Linked DNA regions of Homo sapiens: regions 2 and 3 are each linked to region 1. Evidence: fine-mapped expression QTL. A gene starts in region 1. Each other region holds a variant in brackets. All regions are shown on one strand. Distances are from middle to middle.

Region 1 (8,167 bases):
GCAATATTAGTTAATACTAACATACTAAAGTTGGTTCCTGAGTTGTAATAAATGTATTATAAGAGTGTAAGATATTCACAGTAAAGGAAAATAGGCAAGGTGTATTTGAAAATTCTGTACTATCTTTTGCAACTTTTGGTAAATCCAAAGCTATTCTAAAATAATTTTTTAAAAAGAATCATGGATGGCTGGGCATGGTGTCTCACACCTGTAATCCCAGTACTTTGGGAGGATTGCCCAAACCCAGGAGTTCAAGACTGACCTGGGTGACATGAGGAAATCTTGTCTCTTCAAAAAATATAAAAATTAGCCAGGCATGGTGGTGCACATCGTGGGAGGCTGACGTGGGAGGATCACTTGAGCCCAGGAGGTCATGGCTGCAGTGAGCCATGATTGTGTCACTGCACTCCAGCCTGGGTGACACAGCAAGACCCTGTCTCAAAAAAAAAAAAAAAAAAGGCCCCAGTGTGGTGGCTCACACCTGTGATCCCAGCACTTTGGGAGGCCAAGGCAAGAGGATCGCTTGAGCCCAGGAGTTCGAGGCCAGCCTGGGCAACACAGCCAAACCTCGTCTCTACAAAAAATACAAAAATTAGCCAGGCGTGGTGGCATGTACCTACTTGGAAGGCTGAGGCAGGAGGATCGCTTGATCCCAAGAAGTCGAGGCTGCAATGAGCCGTGATTGTGTCACTGCACTCCCGCCTGAGTGACACAGCAAGACCCTGTCTTTAAAAAAAAAAAAAAAAAAATTTTAGACTTCCAGGTATTCAGCATAAATCACATTGTACAGTTTAGGTACAATGAGCCATCATTATCAAGGGATAGTGTTATATCGATGTAGAGAATTATTTACCAGTCAAGTTCCCAATGCCAGCCAAAGGCCAATCTTGTGAACAGGACTTTCTAAGGATAGCAAGCAGGCCTGGGCACCAGTGCACACACATAGCATACAACTTTCTGGGGTGTGACAGAGATATTTCATAATTCATACCCTCCTCCTGTTGTGGAAGTTATCCCTACAAACCTCACTTACAGACATCATCTACTATTCTGATTCAGAGATACATGTCTGAAGGAGGAAGGGAACACCTGTGAGATATGGAGAGCTGAGAAGAGGAAGCCTTGAGTTTCTCAATGAGCATAGCTGAAAATCAGCCCGGAGCTCTGCACTATCATTTTTGTTTTTTTCCTTCTGTACATGGGACTTTAGTTCTGAGAAATCTATCCTGAGGATAGAAGAGGAAGAGAAGGGAGAAGAAGAAAAATGAGAAAGAAAAGAGTGAGGCCTTTTGAGAGGATGGAATAGAATCAGGTTAGCTCAATCGGGTTGTGAATATCCAGGAAGCACTGTTGAGTTCAAGCTTCCTAAAATATGTACAAGTGGTGATGTCCGGTAGGCAGGCAGACTCTAGAGCTGGTAAAGGGCTGTAGGACACAGAGCCTCAAGTGTTCATTTTCTTTTCTTTTCTACTTTTTTTGAGACAGAGTCTTGCTCTGTCGCCAAGGTTGGAGTGCAGTGGTGCGATCTCGGCTCACTGCAACCTCTGCCTCCTGGGTTCAAGCAATTCTCTGCCTCAGCCTCCTGAGTAGCTGGGACTACAGGCACCGACCACCACGCCCGGCTAATTTCTGTATTTTTAGTAGAGATGGGGTTTCACCATATTGGCCAGGCTGGTCTGGAGCTCCTGACCTCAAGTGATCCACCCACCTTGGCCTCCCAAAGTTCTAGGATTACAGGCATGAGCCACCGCGCCCGGCTGAGTGTTCATTTTCGGGTTTTTTTTTTTTTTTTTTTTTTTTTTTTGAGAAGGAGTCTCACTCTGTCGCCCAGGCTGGAGTGCAGTGGCACGATCTCGGCTCACTACAAGCTCCGCCTCCCAAGTTCAGGCCATTCTCCTGCCTCAGCTTTCCGAGTAGCTGGGACTACAGGCGCCCCCCACCATGCCTGGCTAATTTTTTTGTATTTTTAGTAGAGATGGGGTTTCGCCGTGTTAACCAGGATGGTCTTGATCTCCTGACCTCGTGATCCGCTCATCTCGGCCTCCCAAGGTGCTGGGATTACAGGCGTGAGCCACCGTGCCCGGCCGAGTGTTCATTTTCAAATGAGGTAATACATACGATTACAGATACACTGCAACACGCCAGCATTGAGCTTTTTTGTTAAACTCTGTAAATATCTTGTGAATAGTGTATTTGTACGTATGTTAAAATAATTACTTGAGCTTCTGTCCACTCTGTTTGGCATTTTAAAATCTTTTCAGGCCGGGCGCGGTAGCTCACGCCTGTAATCCTAGCACTTTGGGAGGCCGAGGTGGGCGAATTGCCTGAGCTCAGGAGTTTGAGACCAGCCTGGGCAACATGGTGAAACCCCGTCTATACTAACATACAAAAACAAAAAAACAAAAACAAAAAAAATCAGCCGGGCGTGGCGGTGTGCGCCTGTAGTCCCAGCTACTCAGGAGGCTGAGGCAGAAGAATTGCTTGAACCTGGGAGGCAGAGGCTGCAGTGATCCGAGATCCTGCCACTGCACTCCAGCCTAATGACAGAGCGAGACTCTGTCTCCAAAAAAAAAAGAAAGAAAGAAAGAAAGAAAAGAAAGAAAAAAAAGAAAAAGAAAAAATTTTTCAATAAGTTGGATTTGGTGGTGGCAGGAAATCCCAGCTACTCGGGAGGCGGATGCAGGCAGATTGCTGGAGACCAGGTGTTCAAGGTCAGCCTGCACAACATAGTAAGACCTCGTCTCAAAAAAAGAAAAGAAAGAAAAAATATTTTTAATATGCAACAAGCCTCAAAAAATGGAAGTGGTCCCCGTTTCTCTTAATGTCTTGGAGGCCAAAAAAAGGTACTGGTTGGTGAAATACACATATAGATATCATCAGTACCCAGATGTTAATTAACGCCAAGGGAGTGTAAAGGGTCGCCCAAGAGAGCGACTTTACGGGAAAAGAAGGCTCTGGAACCAGAACATTTAAAAGACTCACTGAAGGAGAGGCGCCTACAAAGGATGCTAATCAGGAATGGCCAAAGAGATGGCAGAAAAACCAAGTGAAATGGTTAGGGAAAGATGGGGGAAAAAAACATAAGGATAACTCAAGCCAATAGTGCATTTTAAGAAGGGTATTAAGGCCGGGCGCTGTGGCTCACGGCCGTAATCCCAGCGCTTTGGGAGGTCGAGGCAGACGGATCACCTGAGGTCAGGAGTTTGAGAGCAGCCTGGCCAACATGGCGAAAACCCTGTCTCTACTAAAAATACAAAAATTGGCTGGGCATGGTAGCGGGCGCCTACAATCCCAGCTATTCAGGAGGCTGAGGCAGGAGAATCCCCTGGACCCGGGAGCTGGAGGTTGCAGTGACCCGAGATCGCGCCACTGCTCTCGAGCCTGAGCGACTGGGTGAGACTTCATCTGAAAAAAAAAAGAAAAGAAAAAGAAAAAAAGATTAATCAAAGTGTCAAATATTTCTTTCTTTTTCTTTTTCTTTCTTTTTTTTTTTTTTTTTTTTGAGACGGAGTCACACTGTGTTGCCCAGGCTGGAGTGCAGTGACACGATCTCGGCCCACTGCAACCTCCTCCTCCCAGGTTCAAGCGATTCTCCTGCCTCGGCCACCCGAGTAGCTGGGATTACAGGCGTGCACCACCACGCCCGACTAATTTTTGTATTTTTAGGGGAGATGGGGTTTCTGCATGTTGGCCAGGGTGGTCTCGAACTCCTGACCTCAGGTGATCCACACGCCTCGGCCTCCCAAAGTGCTAGGATTACAGGTTGTGAGCCACCGCGCCCGGCCAATGTCAAATATTTCGCTGATTTTCCTCGGTCAGCACCACCACAATAATTGTGCCACCTTACCCATGCAAGGTTTAGACATCTCTTTGACTCTTTTACAGGGTTTTATACTGTGGTTTCCATTATTTCCTCTAACTAGACAGCAGAAGCGGCTTACTCATTTTTCTCTTCCATAGAGTCTTACTCCGATCGTTCAATTAATATCAGTGGAATGATTTAAAGAACATTTGAAAAACCACTCGGACAAAACCCTCAGATTCGAACTTGTTCCAGCAGCCAAAAATACCCGCGGGCCACGGCTACACTGCGCAGGCGCAAAGGCAGATGGGCTTTCTCCAGAAGGGCTTTGCATTTGGCGCGAAATCCCTTTCCGTGGGCTGGGGCTCTTGGAGAGGCGCCGTTCATTGGTCAGGTTTGGCGCGAAATCTCCAGCTCCTGTGTCACGATTGGTTCCGGCCGTGCAGGTCGGAAGAGGGGGCGGGGCGGAAGCGGCGGCGGCGCGCGCAAAGCTGCAGCGTCTGGAAAAAAGCGACTTGTGGCGGTCGAGCGTGGCGCAGGCGAATCCTCGGCACTAAGCAAATATGGACCTCGCGGCGGCAGCGGAGCCGGGCGCCGGCAGCCAGCACCTGGAGGTCCGCGACGAGGTGGCCGAGAAGTGCCAGAAACTGTTCCTGGACTTCTTGGAGGAGTAAGTCGGCGAGCGCCCCGGGCCTCGCCCGCCTCCGGAGCCTGCGGCGTCTGGGCCAGGCGGTGCCGTGTGGGCGGCGGGTGTTCCGGAACCTGGGGGTCGCGCGTCCGGGAAGCGCCTCCCCGCCCGCCCCCCAACTTTAGGCTCCGAGCCCGGCGGCCGCGAGGAGCCTGGGACAGGCTGGGTTTTTCTGGAGTAAAACCCATCTCGAGCCCTAAGACGCTCGTGCCCAGTGCTCAGCGCTTTGCTTCTGTCACTTGATGCTCACCACCCCGCGAGCCTGGTATTTGCACAGCCCTCGGTGACCGGCGCGGAAACCTGGGCTCGCTGAGTATAGTAACTGGGCCGCTGGGTGCGGCCAGGTCGAGTGGGAGGCCGAAGTGCCATTGAATCTCGTCGGTGCCCTGCTGGGCCACGCAGCCGGGAGCATGGTGCTGGGGGTTCGCAGGGCACGGGCCACCCTCGCCTCTTGTGCTGATGAAAGTTTCTGCGTCAACTGTGGTTTGAAAGCTGCTGGGGGGCGGAGCCCTGCCCTGCAGAGAGTAGCTCACCATATCCCTTCTTCTGGGTCCCTTGCTCCCCTTTCCCTCTGGCCTTCCTTTCCTTTCTCTACTCTTCTTTTTTTCTGTGCCTCTGGGCTCCTAGCTTCATAACCCCAACCTCCTCCCTGGCTTGCCTCACCCACCGGTTATTTTTCCTGGAGCAGATACACCACGGCCTCCAGGATGAAGGGTCAGCAGTTTGGAATGGCTTTTGAAGTTCTTTTTTAGTAAAATATACATAACAAAGTTGACCATTTTAGCCATTTTTAAGTGTAGAGTCCAGTGGCACTAAGTGCATTCACCTCGTTGTGCAGCCGTCACCACTCTCCCATCTCCAAACTTTTTTTTTTTTGAGGCGTAATTTAGCCCTTGTTGCCCAGGCCGGAGTGCAGTGTCACCATCTCAGCTCACCGCAACCTCCGTCTCCCGGGTTCAAGCTATTCTCCTGCCTCAGCCTCCCTACTAGCTGGAATTACAGGCATGCGCCACCACGCCCGGCTAATTTGGTATTTTAGTAGAGATGGGGTTTCTCCATGTTGGTCAGGCTGGTCTTGAACTCCCGACCTCAGGTGATCCCCCCGCCTGGGCTTCCCAAAGTGATTACAGGCGTGAGCCACCGTGTCCGGCTCCAAACTCTTTTCATCTTCCAAACTGACATTCTGTGCCCATTAAACACGAACTCTCCTCCGTTACCCTCTCCCTCAGCCACCGTCACCCACCACTCTGCTTCCTTTCATTATGAGTTTGACCACTCTAGGTACCTCATATAAGTGGAAGCGTGTAGTATTTGTCCTTTTGTGTCTGGCTTGTGTAACATAATGTCTACAAGGTTCCTCTGCGAGGTAGCATGTGTCAGAATTTCCTTACTTTTTAAGGCTAAATAACATTGTCTGTACACATTGAGTATCCCTTTTCTGAAACGCTTGGGACCAGAAGAGTTTGGGATCTTGGATTTTTTTTTCAGATTTGGAATGTTTACATTATACTTAACCAATTGCATCCCTAATTTGAAATGCTCCAGTGAAAATCATGTCAGCACTCAAAAAGTTTCAGATTTTGGACCATTTCATATTTTAAATTTTCAGATGAGGGCTGCTCAACCTGTATATATACTGCATTTTGCTTATCCATTCAGTGGACACAGGTTCATTCCACCTTTTGTCTATTGTGAATAATGAGGTTCATTCCACCTTTTGGCTATTGTGAATAATGCTGCCTTCTTAGGAAATTTTGGTATACTTAAAACCATAATTTAATTTCCATTTCACTACCTATGGCAATGTTATTGTCTGCCTGATAGTTCCTCCTTCAAAGCCCAGCTAAAAACTCACACCTTTGTGAAACCTTGTACACCTTTTTGAGAGGCACTAATCCTTTCTTCCTTAGGCTCCCAGGGTGCTGTTTGTTTTTCATTATCTCTGGCAGTGTAACACATTTACCTCCTAGCTACTTAGTCTGGAATTCAAATTCCATCCTCAACCCCACCTACCCACCACATCACATTACAAAGGTTTTTCAATAAACGTTTCATTTCAACAAATAATCTAAGTGCCTTGACTTTGCAGCTAGATGATAATGATGAGACAAATAATCTCTGTGCTTTGTTTAAAGAAATGCCAACTCCCTGTCACAAAATAAACTTTAATTCACCATTGCTTGTGGAATAAAGTTCAAATTCTTCATCACTCCTCTTTCCTGTTTGTCTTACAAAAACACCCCAGTCATCATCCACACTTCTCCCCTACCTTCTCTGACTTAATCACATTCTTGGAATCATCTAGTCAGTCACTTCACCACCTGTTTTTATTTGAAATTTTTAACTCTTTCAGAAGCTGAATTCCAACGCCACCTTTTATATGTATAACTTGTAGTTGTTTTTTTAGGCAGAATTAGTTTCTATTCCCCTAGCACATTTCTTGTTCTTCTCATTAACAGGAACATCTTTCTTGTCTGTCTTCATTGCTTACATGTCTAACTCCCTAGACGCAGACAAAGTGTTAGTTAACCCTAGGGCAGGAACAACACTGCCATTTTCAGCCTCAGGTACCTCTGTTATAGGGCTTTGCACGTAGTTGTTTAACAAATATTTTAAGGAGTCAGAACATGCTGTATATGGAGGAGAAATTGATTTTTTCTTAAGGCGAATCTGCATATTATGTTTGAAAGAACAGAAATAAATTTGTATGATATCCTGCTTGGGCTTTAGAAGCAAAAATACCAGCAGCTTTATTTAGTGTGCCTGTTTCAATTTTCCCGAAGTCTTGGGCTGTGAAACACCTCATTTCCATGTATTCTTATTTCTGTTCTGCTTCTTAAATCCCTGACTAATTTGTTAGTTTGCAAATTCCCTACAGAAATGGAATCATTGGGTTTGAGACTGAATTTCTTGATTTAACATTTTCCAATCTTAATTATACATGACAGTAGTAAAAGAAGAGTTAGTTGTTGGGTTTTTTTGTTAGTTAGCAGTTAAACCTCACAATCATGGTGGAAGGCAAGGAGGAGCAAGTCACTGATGTCTTACGTGGATGGCATCAGGCAAAGAGAGCTTGTGCAGAGGAACTCCTCTTTTTAAAACCATCAGATCTCGTGAGACTTACTATCAGAGAACAGCAGGGGAAAGACTTGTCCCCATGCTTCAATTAACTCCCACCAGGTGCCTCCCACAACATGTGGAAATTCAAGTCGAGATTTGGGTGGGGACACAGCCAAACCATATCAGAAGGGAGGAGTAACTTGCCCCAAGTTACAGAACTGCCAAACATGGGCCTGTCTGAGCCTAGTTGTTGGACTTTAACCAATGTTCTGAATTATCATTCAGGTTCTTTGTACTGCCTGTGTCCTTAATCTAGTTGACTCGAATGTACCTGCAGGTTTCAGAGCAGCGATGGAGAAATTAAATACTTGCAATTAGCAGAGGAACTGATTCGTCCTGAGAGAAACACATTGGTTGTGAGTTTTGTGGACCTGGAACAATTTAACCAGCAACTTTCCACCACCATTCAAGAGGAGTTCTATAGGTATGGGCATATTAATCTTCTTTACTTTGAATAGGGGTTGAAATCCGGGAAGCCAGCTCTTCTTGGACTGTAAGTGTTCACTTGTGTAGCAGAAGGTCAGCTTTCACAGTTATTTCCCACTGAGAAGAGGCGC
Region 2 (8,178 bases), 79 kb after region 1:
TGGATTCGAGTGATTCTCCTGCCTCAGCCTCCTGAGTAGCTGGGATTACAGGCGCCTGCCACCACAGCTGGCTAATTTTTTGTATTTTTAGTAGAGACAGGTTTCACCATATTGGGCAAGTTGGTCTCAAACTCCTGACCTCAGGTGATCCACCTGCCTCAGCCTCCCAAAGTGCTGGGATTATGGGTGTGAGCCACCCTGCCTGGCCTGGGTTGTCTTTTAAGTTTTAAAAAATCATTTGTACATATAGTCCTTTCTGAATATAACATTGGTTTGAAGCTAACTCAATAGAAAGAAATTCCATCTCTTTAGTCTCTCTAGTTTGACTATAGTAGCTAACAGAGCTGGGCTGCAATGTCACACTTCACCTTTAGGTGCCACCATCTGATTTGATTTGCTCCAGCCTAAGCATTTCTTAAATTGGGGGCTTTAGATTCTGCGATAGGTATCTCTATTATGGGTATTTTGCCTGAGACGTACGAGCCACTCTTCTGGAGGAGGGGAACAGAAGCCAACATTTATCAAGTGGCCTTCCCTCTTCCAGACACAGTGCTGCTGTGGGCGGGTTTCATACACTGTTTCATTTCCCTCTCACAAGCACTCTCTGCTGCCCATTTCACCAAGGAGGAAACTGAAAGGCTGAATTACTCACCCAAAGTTACACAGCCAGGTAATAAGAGGGAGAGCCAGGGTTTGAATTCCAGTTTTCCTAGTGTCAGAATCTACACCCCTTCTCCCAAACACAGAGGGGACATCTGCAGGCAGGGACTAACAATCTCAGTCACATCCATTCTATCCATTCTCTGTTGACATCCATGTGTATGTTTCCAGGAGTCTCCAATAGGCCTGGCACTGCCCCCTACATTGTTGGCCACAATCTAATAAAGGCTCATGCTGAGGCCTGGCATCTGTACAACGATGTGTACCGCGCCAGTCAAGGTGGCGTGATTTCCATCACCATCAGCAGTGACTGGGCTGAACCCAGAGATCCCTCTAACCAGGAGGATGTGGAGGCAGCCAGGAGATATGTTCAGGTCTGTTTTTCCTCTGGGCGCTTGTTCTTACTCTTGTCCATCTTTCCTTCCAGCCTAATGGAAACAGATTGTGAATCAAAGATTTAGGGTGTGGTGGCTCATGTCTATAATCCCAGCACTTTGGAAGTCTGAGGCAGGAGGATTTCTTGAGGCTAGGAGTTTGAGACTAGCCTGGGCAACATAGAAAGACCTTGTCTGTGAAGAAAAAAAAATTATTAGGGCATGGTGACACACACCTATAGTCCCAGCTGCTCAGGAGGCTAAGGTGGGAGCTTGAGTCCAGGAGGTCAAGGTTGCAGTGAGCCATGATTTCGGCACCATTAAACTCCAGGTGACAGAGGGAGACCACCCCCAACCCCCAAAAAGAAGAATTATTAGGATCTAAGCCTAGTTTTGCTATTGCCTGATTTTGTGAGCTTGGGAAAATCATCTAACTTTTTCGTACCTTAGTTTCCTCAACTTCAAACTGGAGATGTCCTGCCCACCTCAAAAGTTTGCTGTGATGAAAGTGATAAAGTCTGTGGGGTTAAGTTGTCTTTAAGTTTTTAAAAATCATTTGTACAGGTAATTCTTTCTGTAACATTGGTTTGAAGTTAACTCCTAGAGAGAAATTTCCATTTCTTCAGTCTCTCTGGTTTGACTATAGTAGCTAACAGAGCTGGGCTGCAGTGTCACACGTCACCTTTAGGTGTCACCATCTAATTTGATTTGCTCCAGCCTAGGCATTTCTTAAATTGGGGGCTTTAGATTCTGTGAAACTCATTAGTGCCCCTAATTTGCCAACTCAATGAGTTTAAGAACAGCATCTTTCAGTCATGGAATTTCACCCAAGGAAGTAGAGACATTACTAGGAAGCCGACTGGGCAAGGTGGCTCACGCCTGTAATCCCAGCACTTTGGGAGGCTAAGGCAGGCTGATAACCTGAGGTCAGGAGTTCTAGACCAGCCTGGCCAACATGGTGAGACCCCATCTCTACTAAAAATATAAAAATTACCGAGGTGTGGTGGCACATGCCTGTAGTTCCAACTACTCTGGAGGCTAAGGCAGGAGAACCCAGAAGCTGAGATCACCATTGCACTACAGCCTGAGCAATGGAGAGAGACTCCATCTCCAAAAAAAAAAAAAAAGGAAGCAGGTGCCAGCATGGCCTACCTTTATTTCCACCTGAACCCCTGACTGACAAGAGGAGAGAAGGAAAAGAATGATCCTCGTTCACGGCACAGCTCCTCTGGCTCCTCCTAGAAAGGGATAGAAGGTGCTCTCTCCTACATTTTGCATCAGGAAGGAAAGGCAAGGGTTTCTCTCTGGATTGGTTCCCACTTTGGGCTCCGTGGAAGAGTCTGCCAACTGTGGCACTATAACTCTCTCGGGGGAAACACCATGGGCCTTGGTTTGCCAAACTCTTCACAAGAGAACTTGACAAAGATAGTCAAATTAATAAATGCAACGAAGGGCTTAATTTTCTGGTCTGCTAGCCAGCTGGGGAAACAGTTTTGAAACAAAATTAATGTATCCCTCATTTCAGACTCACAGAACTGGTGATTTAGAACAACATTTCCTTTTTTCCTGAAATCAAAACTTCAAACGTCAGGAAACGTTAGGCTGTCATATCATTAGATTGAGCCACTTACTGGTGAACTGTGATACTGCAGCCATGGACTATGACAGATGCATCTCTTATTAGAATCAGCTTCCACGAAAATATCTAGTGTGTTACCTTGGAGTGGGTGCATTTAAGCCTCTTTACCAGGGCATGTGTGTTCCATGCCTCATCTCTGACCATGAGTGGAAGCTGCCCTCACCCCACATTCCCAGCAGCAGCCAGTGGGTGAGGAGAGGATTTGGAGAGACTACAGAAGGCTCTCAAACCCCCAGCATCATAGTGTTTGGGTGCCACGTATCCCCGCACATGATAAGGATGGCCTAGGCCTCATTAGAGAAAATAGGTCAAACGGTTCCCCACTCTGGGGCTGTGAAAGCCCATTAAGAGTTATACTTTGCCCGGAAAGTCAGGAAAGCCTTGCATTTCAGCCCTCCCCAGAAAGTTCTGTTTGCTCCTTGGGCACTTTGATGAGGAAGTGCAGCCGCTCAGTGGTGAGAAAGAGAACCGGGAGCCTGGAGGCTTGTGGGTTCTCCCTTCTCCTCTGCAGGACCCATCCAAGGGCAGCCAGGAAGCATTTGTTGAGCACCAGGGCCAGTGCCCAGGTCAGTTACTGTCACCTCAAGCTACAACTATGAAGAGGTGGCCCTGTCCTCAGTGCAACAGCAACTGAGCAAGCACAGACCCAGCTGGGAGACCTGTGGACACTGAAGCTGCAACAGGCAGGAGCCACAGGGAAGAGAGCTTAACCTGGGGGTCCAGGAAAAGGAGGGAGGTTGTGAGGCCAGGCACTTCTGAGCGGGGACGATGCTGTCTCTTGCTGTGCCCACCTGTAACGCCTGGGCTGTCTCCCCCACCCTACCCGCAGTTCATGGGAGGCTGGTTTGCACATCCTATTTTCAAGAATGGAGATTACAATGAGGTGATGAAGACGCGGATCCGTGACAGGAGCTTGGCTGCAGGCCTCAACAAGTCTCGGTAAGGGCCTGGTGCCCGCAGTGGTGAGGGCATGGGCGTCGGGGTCACAGAGGCATGTCTCGGGCAAGTTACCATGACTGAGCTTCTTTGCTTGCTGGGAAGTTACATGTGATC[A/G]TATATGTAAAGCTTAGCCCAGCACCTGGCACTGCTATATGCTTGACAGAGGGGTTTGCTATTATGGTTATTATATTGTGGAACAGCCAGGAAATCTGTTCCAAGGCTATCCACCTCTGAGCAACCCCACTATGCCACTCCACAGACAAATCCCAGCTCATCCTATCCTATTTCATCACCGCACGTGTGAATGTGGGTGGCAGTGGCTGACAGTCAGGCGTGTGCTTTGCATCACTTGGCCAGCAGGTGGCGATGGTCTGCACCAAAGCGTCCTTCCTTACCCGCCCGCCCCTTCTTGTCAAGGAAGGAGTAGCAACATTAGCAGCCAACGTTTACCCATCTTCTGTTGGTATCTTTATTTCTATTTAAATACGAGTAAAGTGAGGCGCAAAGATTAGGGCAAGATCACCCAGCTATTAAGAGATAGAGCTGAGATTTGCAGCCAAGCTGTCGGCCCCCAGGGCGCATGCTGGGGGCTTGAGAATCATGCAGGTGGGGTGAGAGGTGTGGTGTGAGGAAGCGCAGGAAGCGGCAGTCACTGCCCACGGGAACATGCCCACCGCTCCAAGGCTGGCGGGAATCAAGTGTGAATTCCCAACATAGTCTTTGAGTCCTGCCCCTAGACGCCCCCATATAGTCCAGCTGAGGATTAAAAATCCAGCTCCCAGGCCGGGTGCGGTGGCTCACACCTGTAATCCCAGCACTTTGGGAGGCCAAGGTGGGCGGATCACTTGAAGTCATGAGTTCAAGACCAGGCTGGCCAACATGGCGAAACCCTGTCTCTACTAAAAATACAAAAATTAGCTGGGTGCGGTGGCGGGGGCCTGTAATCCCAGCTACTTGGGAGGCTGAGGCCAGAGAATTGCTTGAGCTCGGGAGGCAGAGGTTGCAGTGAGCCGAGATCATGCCACTGCACTCCAGCCTGGACGATGGAGCAAGACTCTTTGTCTCAAAAAAAAAAAAAAAAAAAAAATCCAGCTCCCACCTCACAATGCACACCCTGGCCTAGTTAGGGTAAGTTCCCCAGAGCAGGCTGTGCCTAAAGGTCTGATCTGCGAACTGTGATCTCCAGCAAAACCGATGAGCGCCCGGCCCATCTGCACAACTTTGCCGAGCACCTACCATTTGCCCGAGCCAGGGCCAGGGGGAGGGGTCCATGGAAGGAGAGGATTCCATTCGGCTCCTCAAGCTGCTGACAGATCAGCTGGAAAGACAGTTCTCCATCCCATTCCCCAGGCTCTTCAGTACAAAGAAAACTCAGAAGATGAGATCAGGGTAGGCTGGGTAGACCCAGGAGATTTCATGGACAAGGCAGGACATCAGCTGAGCTGGGCCTTGACAGGGGATAGAATGTGGGGGATTGCAGGTCATTCTTTCCACGGGGCAGAGTTGTGAAGACAGGCCTAGAGGTAAGAATGAGTGGGGGTGCCAGAGCTGAGAGTGGGGAGACCAGCCCAGCAGCAGTGAAGGGGCTGAGGCCACATGGTGGAGGGCCTGGAAGCCAAGCACAGGGCCTTGGCTTTGGTGCCACAGGCCATTGCTGGCTTCTGAGCAGAAGCGTCAGGGACAGGAGGAGGCTGTGCTTTGGTTTTCTCCCATCATCTCAGAAACCCCAGGGAAGGAAGGTTCTTGATCCCTCAGGTTAATGGTAGCAGAAAGGTCAAGATGAAAGTGTCAGAGGCCTCAGCAGGGCATCTCTGGGCCACACCTAAACCAGAAGCCCCAGGTCTCCCTGTGGGCATGCGCATGCATTCAGGATCACCTGTACATGCTGCACACAAGTGTATTAGTCAGGTTCTACAGGAGAGGCTTTTCACTCAGAGTGCCTGGAAAATGCTCCATCTACAGGTTAAGAAGCCAAAGTTCCCAGGCTCACAAGTAATCTCAGCACTTTGGGAGGCTGAGGCAGGAGGATTGCTTGAGACCAGGAGTTCAAGACCAGCCTGGGCAATATAGTGAGACTTTGTCTTTACAAAAAATTTAAAAATTATCTAGGCATGGTGACGCACACCTATATTCCCAACTACTTGGGAGGCTGAGGTGAGAGGATTGCTTGAGCCCAGGAGACTGAGGTTGCAGTGAGCTATGATTGCACCACTGCACTCCAGCCTCAGGGGGCGTGCAGTGTCCTCAGGAGGACAGGGCGAGACCCTGTCTGGGAAAAAAAAAAGGAAGAAAGAAAACAAAGTTCAGTGAAATCGTGAGAACTGAGAAATTCAAACTCAAATACTCAATTTGCAAATTATTTCCCCTGCTACTTTGAAGATCTTGAAGCTATTATTATTATTATTATTATTATTATTATTATTAGAGTTGGAGAAAAGAGGCATGCCTAAACAAACCCCAAGAGGAGCAGAGAAACTTGGAAAGGGCAGAAAACGGAAATACAAATTACACAAGATACAGGGCCGGGTGTGGTGGCTCATGCCTGTAATCCCAACACTTTAGGAGGCTGAGGTGGGCGGATCACTTGAGGTCAGGAGTTCAAGACCAGCCTGGCCAACATGGTGAAACCCCATCTCTACCAAAAATATAAAAAATCAGCCAGGAGTTGTGGCAGGCGCTTGTAGTCCCAGCTACTTGGGAGGCTGAGGCAGGAGAATCACTTGAACCCAGGAGGCGGAGGTTGCAGTGAGCTGAGATCGCGCCACTGCACTCCAGCCTAGGTGACAGAGCCAGACTCAGCCACAAAAAAAAAAAATTATACAAGATCTAACTTTACAAACATAGGGGAAGAGTCTCAGATATGTACCTCAGGCATGCTCTTGATTTTGAAATCTGTCATAGATGCTAAATATCAGAATTTGCATATGTTGTTTGAAGGAAATTAAAAACTGTTTATGCATGTGTGTGTGTGTGTGTGTGTGTGCGCGCGCGCGCGTGGGTGCGTGTGTGTGTGGTCCTTCAGGTTTCAGAGGCTCTTGTAGAGACCTAGGGAAGCCAGGTTTATGGTCTGGCTGGAGGAGCCGCAGTGCTTCCTGCACCGCCTGAAGGACCTCTTCTCCTTCCCTGCCAGTTTCCCCTACTCACTGCCAAGTGCCTGGGGTTCGGAGAGCTCCCCCGCCCCAGCCCTATGACGTTCTCTTCTCAAAGCATGGCTCTCCCTGAAGCCCTGCCCTCAATGGCTTCTTCCACCCAGGCTGCCAGAATTTACAGAGAGTGAGAAGAGGAGGATCAACGGCACCTATGACTTTTTTGGGTTCAATCACTACACCACTGTCCTCGCCTACAACCTCAACTATGCCACTGCCATCTCTTCTTTTGATGCAGACAGGTAAGTCCACCAACAGGGAGCCCGGAGCCATCTCTGGAAAAGGCAGAAAGGTGCCCTTGGCTGTGCTCTCTGAGGCCTGCCCAGCCTCAAAACAGGGCCTCCAACGCCGAATGTGCCGGGGTTTGCAAGATGCTCGCCACCCCACAGATCCCAAGGAAATCTCCAGCAAGCAAGAGGGAGAGAAGGCCGGGGTCTCCAGGGCACCTCCCATTAGGGCACATGTGCTTGGCTTTTTGTTTTTTTATTTCATTTTTAAAATTTATTTATTTTGCGTTCTTTTTCACAGGCTGCTTAACTCTAAAAATGCTTGGTTGTTAAAAAGGATTTTCAAGAAAAAAATTGTTTAGGTTTTATCAAAATTCGCTTTAATATTAATAAATATTACAATAATACAAGAGTAAAATTTTATTTTCTCTTTTTAAACAATGCTTTTATGAAGTAGAGATAGTAAAAGATTTTGGTTCACCTTTTAAGTAACAGTTTTTATTTTATTTATTTTTTTTGAGACAGAGTCTCGCTCTGTCACCAGGCTGGAGTGCAGTGGCACAATCTTGGCTCACTGCAACCTCCACCACCCGGGTTCCAGTGATTCCCCTGCCTCAGCCTCCAAGTAGCTGGGATTACAGGCGCGTACCTCCACGCCTGGCTAATTTTTTTTTTTTTTTTTTTGTATTTTAGCAGAGACGGGGTTTCATCATGTTGGCCAGAATGGTCTCGGCTAATTTTGTGTTTTTAGTAGAGACAGGGTTTCTCCATGTTGGTCAGGCTGGTCTCTATCTCCTGACCTCAGATGATCCCCTTGCCTTGGCCTCCCAAAGTGCTGGGATTACAGGTGTGAGCCACTGCGCCCAGCCGATTGTCTTTTTCTTTATGATATCTATTTATCTAGAGACTTTTTCATCCATATCCTGTATTGTTTTTTAAATTTCTCTAAGTTAATTTTCACCTTTCTCTAGTACCTCCTTGAGTAGTTTAATAATCAACCTTCTGAATTCTTTATCTGGCAATTCAGAGATTTCTTCTTGGTTTGGATCCATAGCTGGAGAGTTAGTGCGACCTTTTGGGGGTCTTATAGAACCTTGTTTTGTCATATTACCAGAATTAACATTTCTGGTTCCTTCTCATTCAGGTAGACTGTTTCAGTGGAAAGATCTAGAACTCAAGGGCTGCCCCTCAGA
Region 3 (8,178 bases), 51 kb after region 1:
TTCTGTGTGCTGAGCACAGAGGCGCATGGATGAGCACATAGGTGATGCATTCCCAACAACATACAGGCACAGGCACCCCCCGCCCCCTACACACACACACACACACACACACACTTTCTCATTCCATCTCCATCTTTTCCTTTGGAAAATCCTGCTTTGGAATATTTGGTTTAGTGATAAGGGGAGAAACAAAAAAGCGTACTTCTGAGAGGCTGTTAGTCTTGACAGTGCTTAGGTTCTAATGACCCTATTTAACTACTATTTTCAGGACACGGTCGATTTCCTCTCTCTTGATTTGTCTTATGAATGCCAAAATGAGGCAAGTCTGCGGCAGAAGCTGAGTAAATTGCAGGTAATTTGAGCCCTTTTCCACATTAATGATGAATGCAGCGAAGGTTTCAGAGAGCAGATTAGACATTTAATGCTTTGGCTACTGCATAAACTGAACTTCCATCAACAGCAGAGACCGGCTGAGTTGTGTCTGGGGAGATTTCCATTGCAAGCATCCCTAGAGAACATCGGATGTTAGGCAGTCTTTCCTAGAAGGGATACAAGGGTTAGCTTGTTAAGGTGAATATTTACATAGATCCTCTGCTTGCTTGTGTAGAAATCTGCCGAGAATTGAGATTCTGGGGTTCATTCTGAGTTTTAAAAAGGCAACTCATCAATGGGGGTGATGGTTCCATAACGATAAGCGTCCACTTAACACCACTGAACTATACATTTAATGGTTATGATGGTAATTTTTTTTTTTGAGATGGAGTCTTCCTCGGTTGCCCAGGCTGGGGTGCAGTGGCGTGATCTTGGCTCACTGCAGCCTCCACCTCCCGGGTTCAAGCGATTCTCCTGCCTCAGCCTCTCCAGTAGCTGAGATGACAGGAACACACAAACACGCCTGGCTAATTTTTGTATTTTTGGTAGAGGCAAGGATTCACCATGTTGGTCACGTTGGTCTCAAACTCCTGACCTAAAGTGATCCGCCCACCTTGGCCTCCCAAAGTGTTGGGATTACAGGCGTGAGCCACCACACCTGGCCTGTAAATTTCTTCTTTATGTCTATTTTACCACATTTTTAAAAAAACAAACATTTCACACCCAGGTCTACTAAATCAGATCCCAGCTGTCTGGACCTTCCAGTAAGCTCAGTACTCCCTCCTGTACCCAGTACTGCTTTTCTCAAGTCTAATGATGCGGGCTCATTAGAGAAAGTGTGTTAGGAGCCTCCTATCCAACTACCAGGTTTCTCTCTTAGGCTTGGTCACTGCTGTGTGACTTACTTGCTTCATTCCCTGGAGTCCCAACTATTCTCCTGTGACAAGGTCTATCTGATGGTGCCCACGTTTTCTCCTGCACCTTCCGAGTGCTGGCAGTATTCCTATAACCCTGGAGAGCTGCCTTCCTGTGGGCCTTTCCAAGGATGTCTGGCCACTGGTATGCACCCACATTGGACCCCCTGCCTCTTCAGGTTTGGGCACAAAACCACTCCCCGCTGCTTTCAGCCTGTGCCTCCCATGAGGGAGGCAGAGCAGCCCCCTACACTCACCTGTGGTTTTGAATCCCACCATCTCCGTCACCAAGGAGGATGGTTTACCTGAGGAATTATCCCTTTAAAGGCCAAGTTTGGCTAGGCACAGTGGCTCATGCCTGTAATCCCAGCACTTTGGGAGGCCGAGGTGGGTGGATCATGAGATCAAGAGATTAAGACCATCCTGGCCAACATGGCAAAAACCCATCTCTACTAAAAATACAAAAATTAGATGGGTGTGGTGGCACGCACCTGTAGTCTCAGCTACTTGGGAGGTGGAGGCAGGAGAATCACTTGAACCTGGGAGGCGGAGGTTGCAGCGAGCCAAGATTTCGCCACTGCACTCCAGCCTGGTGACAGAGCGAGACTCCATCTCAAAAATAAAAATAAAAATAAAAGGCCAAGCTCAGGAATGTCAAACTGAGCTTCAGCTACATGGACCCTCCATTTTACCTGAGGCAGAGTGCTTGAAATGGACAAATTAGCACCAGTCCTATCCCAATGTCTGTGTGTTTCTAGCTGTCTGTGTAGTAGACACTGCTGCTTTTGTTATCTACAAATAATAAGATGATCTAATTTAGGGGTCCCCAGCCCCCAGGCGGAGCACCAGTACTGGTCCATGGCCTGTTAGGAACCTGGCTGCACAGCAGGAGGTGAGTGGCAGGCGAGCAAGCATTACCACCTGAGTTCCACCTCCTGTCAGATCAGCGACCATATTAGATAGGAGCACAAACCCTATTGTGAACTGCGCATGCGAGGGATCCAGGTTGCGTGCTCCTTATGAGAATCAAATGCCTGATAATCTGAGGTGGAACAATTTCATCCCCAAATCATCCCCATCATCCCCCCTACCTCCCCCAAGTCTGTGGAAAAATTGTCTTCCACGAAACCGGTCCCTGGTGCCAAGAATGTTGGGGACCACTGATCTAATCAAAGGTGACAGATGCAGCCACAAAGACATCTGAGTAACAGCTATTTTAGTGCTTGCTTATCCCAGACACCTGGGAGGCACTTCATTCTCACATCATCTCAACCTCTCAAAACACACCCTAAGGTTTAAACAATTTAACCAAGGTGGTGAGCTCCAGGGTTGGGATTTGAACTAGGGCTTTCTCATTCTAAGACACCACACTGTCTTTTCAAAAGAAAAATAAGTCTCACATCTGTAATCCCAGCACTTTGGGAGGTTGAGGCAGGCGGATCACTTGAGGCCAGGAGTTCAAGACCAGCCTGCCCAACATGGCGAAACCCCGTCTCTACTAAAAATACAAAAATTAACCAAGTATAGTGGCACGAACCTGTAATCCCAGCTCCTTGGGAGGCTGAGGCACAACAATCGCTTGAACCCGGGAGGTGGAGGTTGCAGTGAGCCGAGATGGCGCCACTGCACTCCAGCCCAGGGGACAGAGAGAGACTTGTCTCAAAAAAAAATAAAGAAAAAGAAAAAGAAGTCCAAGGGTTTGGAACATGATAATGAGGGTGGTATTTTTTAAATCACATATGATCAGTTTCAGTTGTTTTTGTGAATGCCTCACCTGAACCTAAACTTGCTTGCTGCCCAGGGCCTGTGCTTGCGGGCTGGCTGACAAGGTTTCTGGGCCTTACGTAACACTCTAGGGTCTTCGAGGTCTGCTTGTGCCTGTGATGACTAAAGCTGCCTTTTGTCCTCCTCATGGAATTAAACCAGAGCTTGTTGCTAGGCTAATGGGTTCAGACAAAGCTGCCATTTTAAAACCATCTCTGTTGTGCGGAGGTGGCGTGCCTCTGACAGGCAGCAGAGGCACTGCATGGCTGGTACTTGAGGATGTGATTTTCAGTCTCTTCCCTTTTTCCATCACAACATTTTTTTTTTAAGATGGAGTCTCGCTCTGTCACCCAGGCTGGAGTGCCCCGTGGCATGATCTCGGCTCACTGCAACCTGCACCTCTGGGGTTCAAGCGATTCTCCTGCCTCAGCCTCCCAAGTAGCTGGGACTACAGGTGCCCGCCACCATGCCTAGCTTTTTTTTTTTTTTTTTGTATTTGTAGCAGATACAGTGTTTCACCATGTTGGCTAGGCTGGTCTCGAACTCCTGGCCTCAAGTGATCCACCACCCCCCTCGACCTCCTAAAGTGCTGAGATTACAGGCATGAGCCACTGCACCTGGCTACCACATTTTCAAGACACTTCTACCAGTGTCTGGGTAAAGCACTGAAACTTCAGTCTGTAGCTGGCCAGCCAAATAGTAAAACTCTCCCTGGACAAACTTAGCAGCCATTTATAAATGTTCTGCAATGGTTATCTATTCCTTTTACTTCCTTGGGTAGGGTTGGCCCCTCAGAGGCAGCCTCAAAGATTCGGAAATGACAGCTGACAACCCCTGAGCTGGAGAGCACACTGTTCCTTCCTGGGATTGTGGTCTCATGCCTGGTAGCATTTCCCATGCACAGTTACCACACCCAGGACAGGGAGAACAGCTGAGCCTGCCCTGAGAACAGGGGCTGAGTTGTGTCCACAGGAGCCTGAATCGTGCTGCCCACCTTCCCAGTGTCCCCTCCCTCCCTGTCCTGGAACCCCACCCTCCCCTTGAAGGGGCCTCTTCCTGTGGGCTGCGAGGGAAGAGGGCGAAAGCAGGGCAGGGAGGAGCAGGCACCTGCCCCCATTCCCACCCTCTCCCCGGAGCACCTGCACAGCCCTCTCTGAGCCTCAGGGGCCCTCAGCGGCCACTCCCCAACGGCACACAGCTGTCTGAGGGCCTGAGAACAGCCTCAAGCCCAGAAATGAAGAGCTGCGGCACACTCCAGGGTTCTCGGTTCTGCAGGAGGCACACGAGGAGGTCCCCCATCCACTTATCAGAAAAAGCTGTGCTCCCAGGGAGTTCTCCGCTTGGCAGAAGACAGGCTGGGGGCCTCCGAGGCTCCTCTAGCTCTCCAGCCCTGGGACATCACCGGCTGCCTCATGGCATATCCGTCTTTCAGGAAGGAGAAAACCCTTGCTTCCCTAAGCACGCCACCCTGGGTCATTTGTCCCCACTGCATTGACCCAGCACAGGGAGGGATGAGGACTGTGTGGAGTCACAGCTCCACTAACTGCGCAGTCATGGGCAACCCGCTCGGCCTCTCGAGCTTCTGACTCCCCATCTGTAAAGAAAGTCACAGGTGGCTATGAGAAAGTAAAGACTATGCCTGGCTCCTTTTAAAGTGGTTACTATTGGTATCTTTTGGTAGCTTTTAGTTGCTCAGAGGAGGAAAAAGTTACTGTGAGTAAAATGACCAAACTCCAAGCCCCGCAAAAAAGGTAATTTAAAGTGAAGTCAAACAGCATGTCAGCCCTGAGACGTTTTCCTTGATACTGAAATGGCTAGAAATAAGAAGAGGAAATTACATTTGCTTCCATTTTAATGATAACAGCTAATATAACTTTTCTTTTTCTTTTTTTTTTTTTTTT[TG/G]AGATGGAGCCTGGCTCTTGTTGCCCAGACTGAAGTGCAGCGGTTCACTGCAACCTCTGCCTCTTGAGTTCGAGCGATTCTCCTGTCTCAGCCTCCCAAGTAGCTGATATTACAGGCGTGCACCACCAAGCCCAGCTAATTTTTGTATTTTTGATAAAGACAGGGTTTCACCATGTTGATCAGGCTGGTCTCAAACTCCTGACCTCAGGTGATCCGCCCGCCTCAACTTCCCAAAGTGCTGGGATTATAGGCGTGAGCCACCACACCCGCTGGGCTGCTGTAACTTTTTGTTTTGGAAAATTTCTAACATCCAAAAGTAAAAAGAATGATGAACCCCTACGAAGCCATCTCCAGCTGCAAGAGCTATTATTGGCTCATAGCTAATCTTCTTTCACCTAACCTATAACTTCTATCTCCCAAACTAGATTTTTAATTAAAAAAAATTTTTTTTAGAGACAGGATCTTGCTCTGTCACCCAGGCTGGAGTGCAGTGGTGCAATCATAGCTCACTGCAGCCTTAAACTCCTGGGCTCAAGCGATCCTCCTGGCTCAGCCTCCCAAGTAGCTGGAACTACAGGCATGCACCACCACACCCAGCTAACCAAACTGGATTATTTTGAAGCAAATCCCAGACATCCATAGATGGTGGCCTCTTAACTAAGCTTCTTAAGTAGCACAGGCTCTGGATGTGAGCAGTGGCCTTGTTCCTGATCCTAACACCGTGCCTGGCTCTAAGAGGTGCCCTGTAAGCCTGTGATGAAAGAAGAGGTGAAGGTGGGGGTTGGTGGGGAGGGTAGACTATGTTATTGAAAATTGTAGATCTTTCTCCTTCAGAGTCTAGAGTTGACTCCTTTAATTAACTGAGATACTTAGAGGTCATTTCCAAAGCCAGAGTAAGTGCCACAGCTTCTCATCTTGAAACTCTGTCCCTGTTATCAAGATGCTTTCCAGGAGGCTTCAGTTCACTTGCTGGTCCTTCTCTTTTTCAGACCATTGAGCCAAAAGTGAAAGTTTTCATCTTCAACCTAAAACTCCCAGACTGCCCCTCCACCATGAAGAACCCAGCCAGTCTGCTCTTCAGCCTTTTTGAAGGTGAGTGGGCCATTGCTGAAGAGGTTTTGAGTGACATCTGGTGCACTGGTGTGCTAGGTAGCAGTCTTGAAAGTCCGGGGTTCCAATGGGAGGAGGAGCATGGGAGGAAGACTAGTATAAAAGCCCACCCCAGACTGGGTTAGTGTACTATGCCTTCCTACTGATGGTCCCTTGCAACCATCCCCCATTGACCCAAGAAAGAGGAGAGGTTCGACACAAGGATGCCTCTTATGGACATAAAGATAGTTAGGCCTCAGCTGTGAGTTGTAAGCATGGAAAATCATCTTTGCCTCCTTTTATTACCTCTCCCTCCAAGGTCTCTCATCTCTGCTCCTCTTGGCAGGGCTTTCCTCTGCCCGTCTCTCTCCAGCCAGCCCTCTCCACTTACCCTTGTTCCATGTCCCCATTATCTCAGTTTGCACATGGCCCTGGTGGGTACCTGACCAAGATGCTAAGAACTTTCAAGTGTAGGACTCACAGCTCAAGGGCCATCTTCCTAGTGTCTCTTAGTTCAAATTCTTGAAAGTGAATCTGATTGTTGGCCATGGATCAGGAGGCTGCTTCTGGTCCAATCAAGTCAGGGGAAAGGTGGGGTCTATGATAGCATTGAGGCTGGCAGTCACTGGAGACTCTGCAAGAAGGGAGGAAGGGGCAGAGAGGAATGTGCCTGAGGGCCCTGATATTCACTCTTGTCTGTCTGTCACTCTTGTCCATAGGCCAGAGTATGGGAGAAGTCAGTAGTGTTCTTTCTACCACTGTGTCTTAGTCTGTCTTGTGTTGCTATAATAGAATACTCTAGACTGCGTAATTTATAGAGAAAAAAGGTTTATTTAGCTCATGGTTCTGGGGACTGGGAAGTTCAAGATCAGGCAGCCACATCTGGTCAGCTTCTGGTGAGGGCCTCATGCTGCATCCTAACCTGGCAGAGAAGTGGAAGGGGAAGGAAGTGCCTGCAAACAGATAAAACACCAGAAGCAGCCTCACTTTATAACAACCACTGTATGGTAACTAATCCAGTCCCACTAGAATGGGAACTCACTCACTCCCTGGAGACTGCACTAATCCCTGAAGGCGGATCCCTCATGACCCAAATGCCTCTTAAAAGTCCATAACCTCTCAATAATGTTACACTGGCAATTAAATTTCAACATGAGTTTTTGTAGGGACAAACCACATCCAAACCATAGCACACCTGGACCCCATCCCAGCAATGGGTTGGCTCCACAGGGCCCCTGAAGTTTATCCATAGATACCATTTAATAATGCTTATCTGAACTCACCTTTGATGGCATAACAATTTCTGTTCTTAGATCCCACCTCTCTCTAAGTGGTTAAAATTGTACCTTTTCTGTTTATGCGTATTTTACCACAATTTTAAAAATATTCCACCCCTTTCTGATCTTTGAGTTCTTCTAAATCAATTGTTCCCAAAGTTGTGGTCCCCAGACCAGCAGCATCAACATTAGCATCACCTGGGAGCTCATTAGAAATGCATATTCTTGAGCCCTACTTGAGACCTACTGCATCAGACACTCTTGGGGTGGGACCAGCAACCTGTGTTTTAACAAGCTCTACAGATGATTTTGATTCACCTTGAAGTTTGAGAACCACTTTTAAGTAATAAGTAAGTAGAATTCACTTCTAAGCTTTTAAAGTCGTTAGCCCATGGTATTTTCCAAAGGGGCTTGGAACCACTGCTTGGAGTTTGGGTGTGTCGTATGAGCGAGGAAAACTGTTGATTTCAGACTTGCATGTTCTTAGTTGGCATTTACATAGAGTTAATTCAATTTCTTCTCTTACAGCCATAAATAAAGACCAAGTGCTCACCATTGGGTTTGATATTAATGAGTTTCTGAGTTGTTCATCAAGTTCCAAGAAAAGGTAATGTCAGGTTGCCTATTGAACTATCAATAACTGATATTTGTAGAATACTCTGTTTCTTTTACATGTATAATCTTATAGGACTGTTGTCATCAACTCTTGGGCCACCAAGTTGTTTATTGCCATTCAATTGATGAGAAACAAAGACTCAGAAAGAAAGTAGGGAGTCTCTTACTGAGTGGGACTCACGAGGTTCTGCTTTCTCATCTGTCAGTTCGCCCAACTGTGCGCAACTAGCATGATGGCTCACACC

Alleles and levels. Alleles are on the strand shown, and positions count from the first base shown. SD is a standard deviation of normalised expression in the study named. Not every link is listed here.
For the expression in tibial nerve of the gene that starts at base 4,288 in region 1, A is the low allele of the variant in region 2 and G is the other (moderate effect, 0.47 SD a copy in GTEx).

The links.
Region 2: its variant is fine-mapped to the expression of MCM6 in tibial nerve (GTEx, PIP above 0.99).
Region 3: its variant is fine-mapped to the expression of MCM6 in whole blood (INTERVAL, PIP above 0.99).

What each region holds. Positions count from the first base shown.
Region 1 is chr2:135,872,564-135,880,730 of GRCh38, reverse strand. MCM6 (minichromosome maintenance complex component 6) reads left to right here and starts at 4,288. Exons shown (of 17, transcript NM_005915.6): 1 at 4,288-4,472; 2 at 7,888-8,034. The coding sequence starts at 4,366. RefSeq lists enhancers at 4,014-4,073, 4,764-4,893, 4,663-5,198 and a silencer at 4,534-4,693.
Region 2 is chr2:135,793,463-135,801,640 of GRCh38, reverse strand. It overlaps LCT (lactase), which reads left to right. Exons shown (of 17, transcript NM_002299.4): 12 at 832-1,034; 13 at 3,503-3,612; 14 at 6,866-7,000. Among named protein-coding and RNA genes, the nearest start is that of LCT-AS1, 23 kb to the left of the region's middle. RefSeq lists enhancers at 3,187-3,710, 3,711-4,232. The variant A/G (reference allele first, on the strand shown) is at 3,727.
Region 3 is chr2:135,821,767-135,829,944 of GRCh38, reverse strand. LCT (lactase) reads left to right here. Exons shown (of 17, transcript NM_002299.4): 3 at 269-352; 4 at 5,942-6,044; 5 at 7,847-7,925. LCT-AS1 (LCT antisense RNA 1) reads right to left here. Exons shown (of 2, transcript NR_045486.1): 2 at 6,858-8,178. Among named protein-coding and RNA genes, the nearest start is that of LCT-AS1, 5.7 kb to the right of the region's middle. The variant TG/G (reference allele first, on the strand shown) is at 4,952.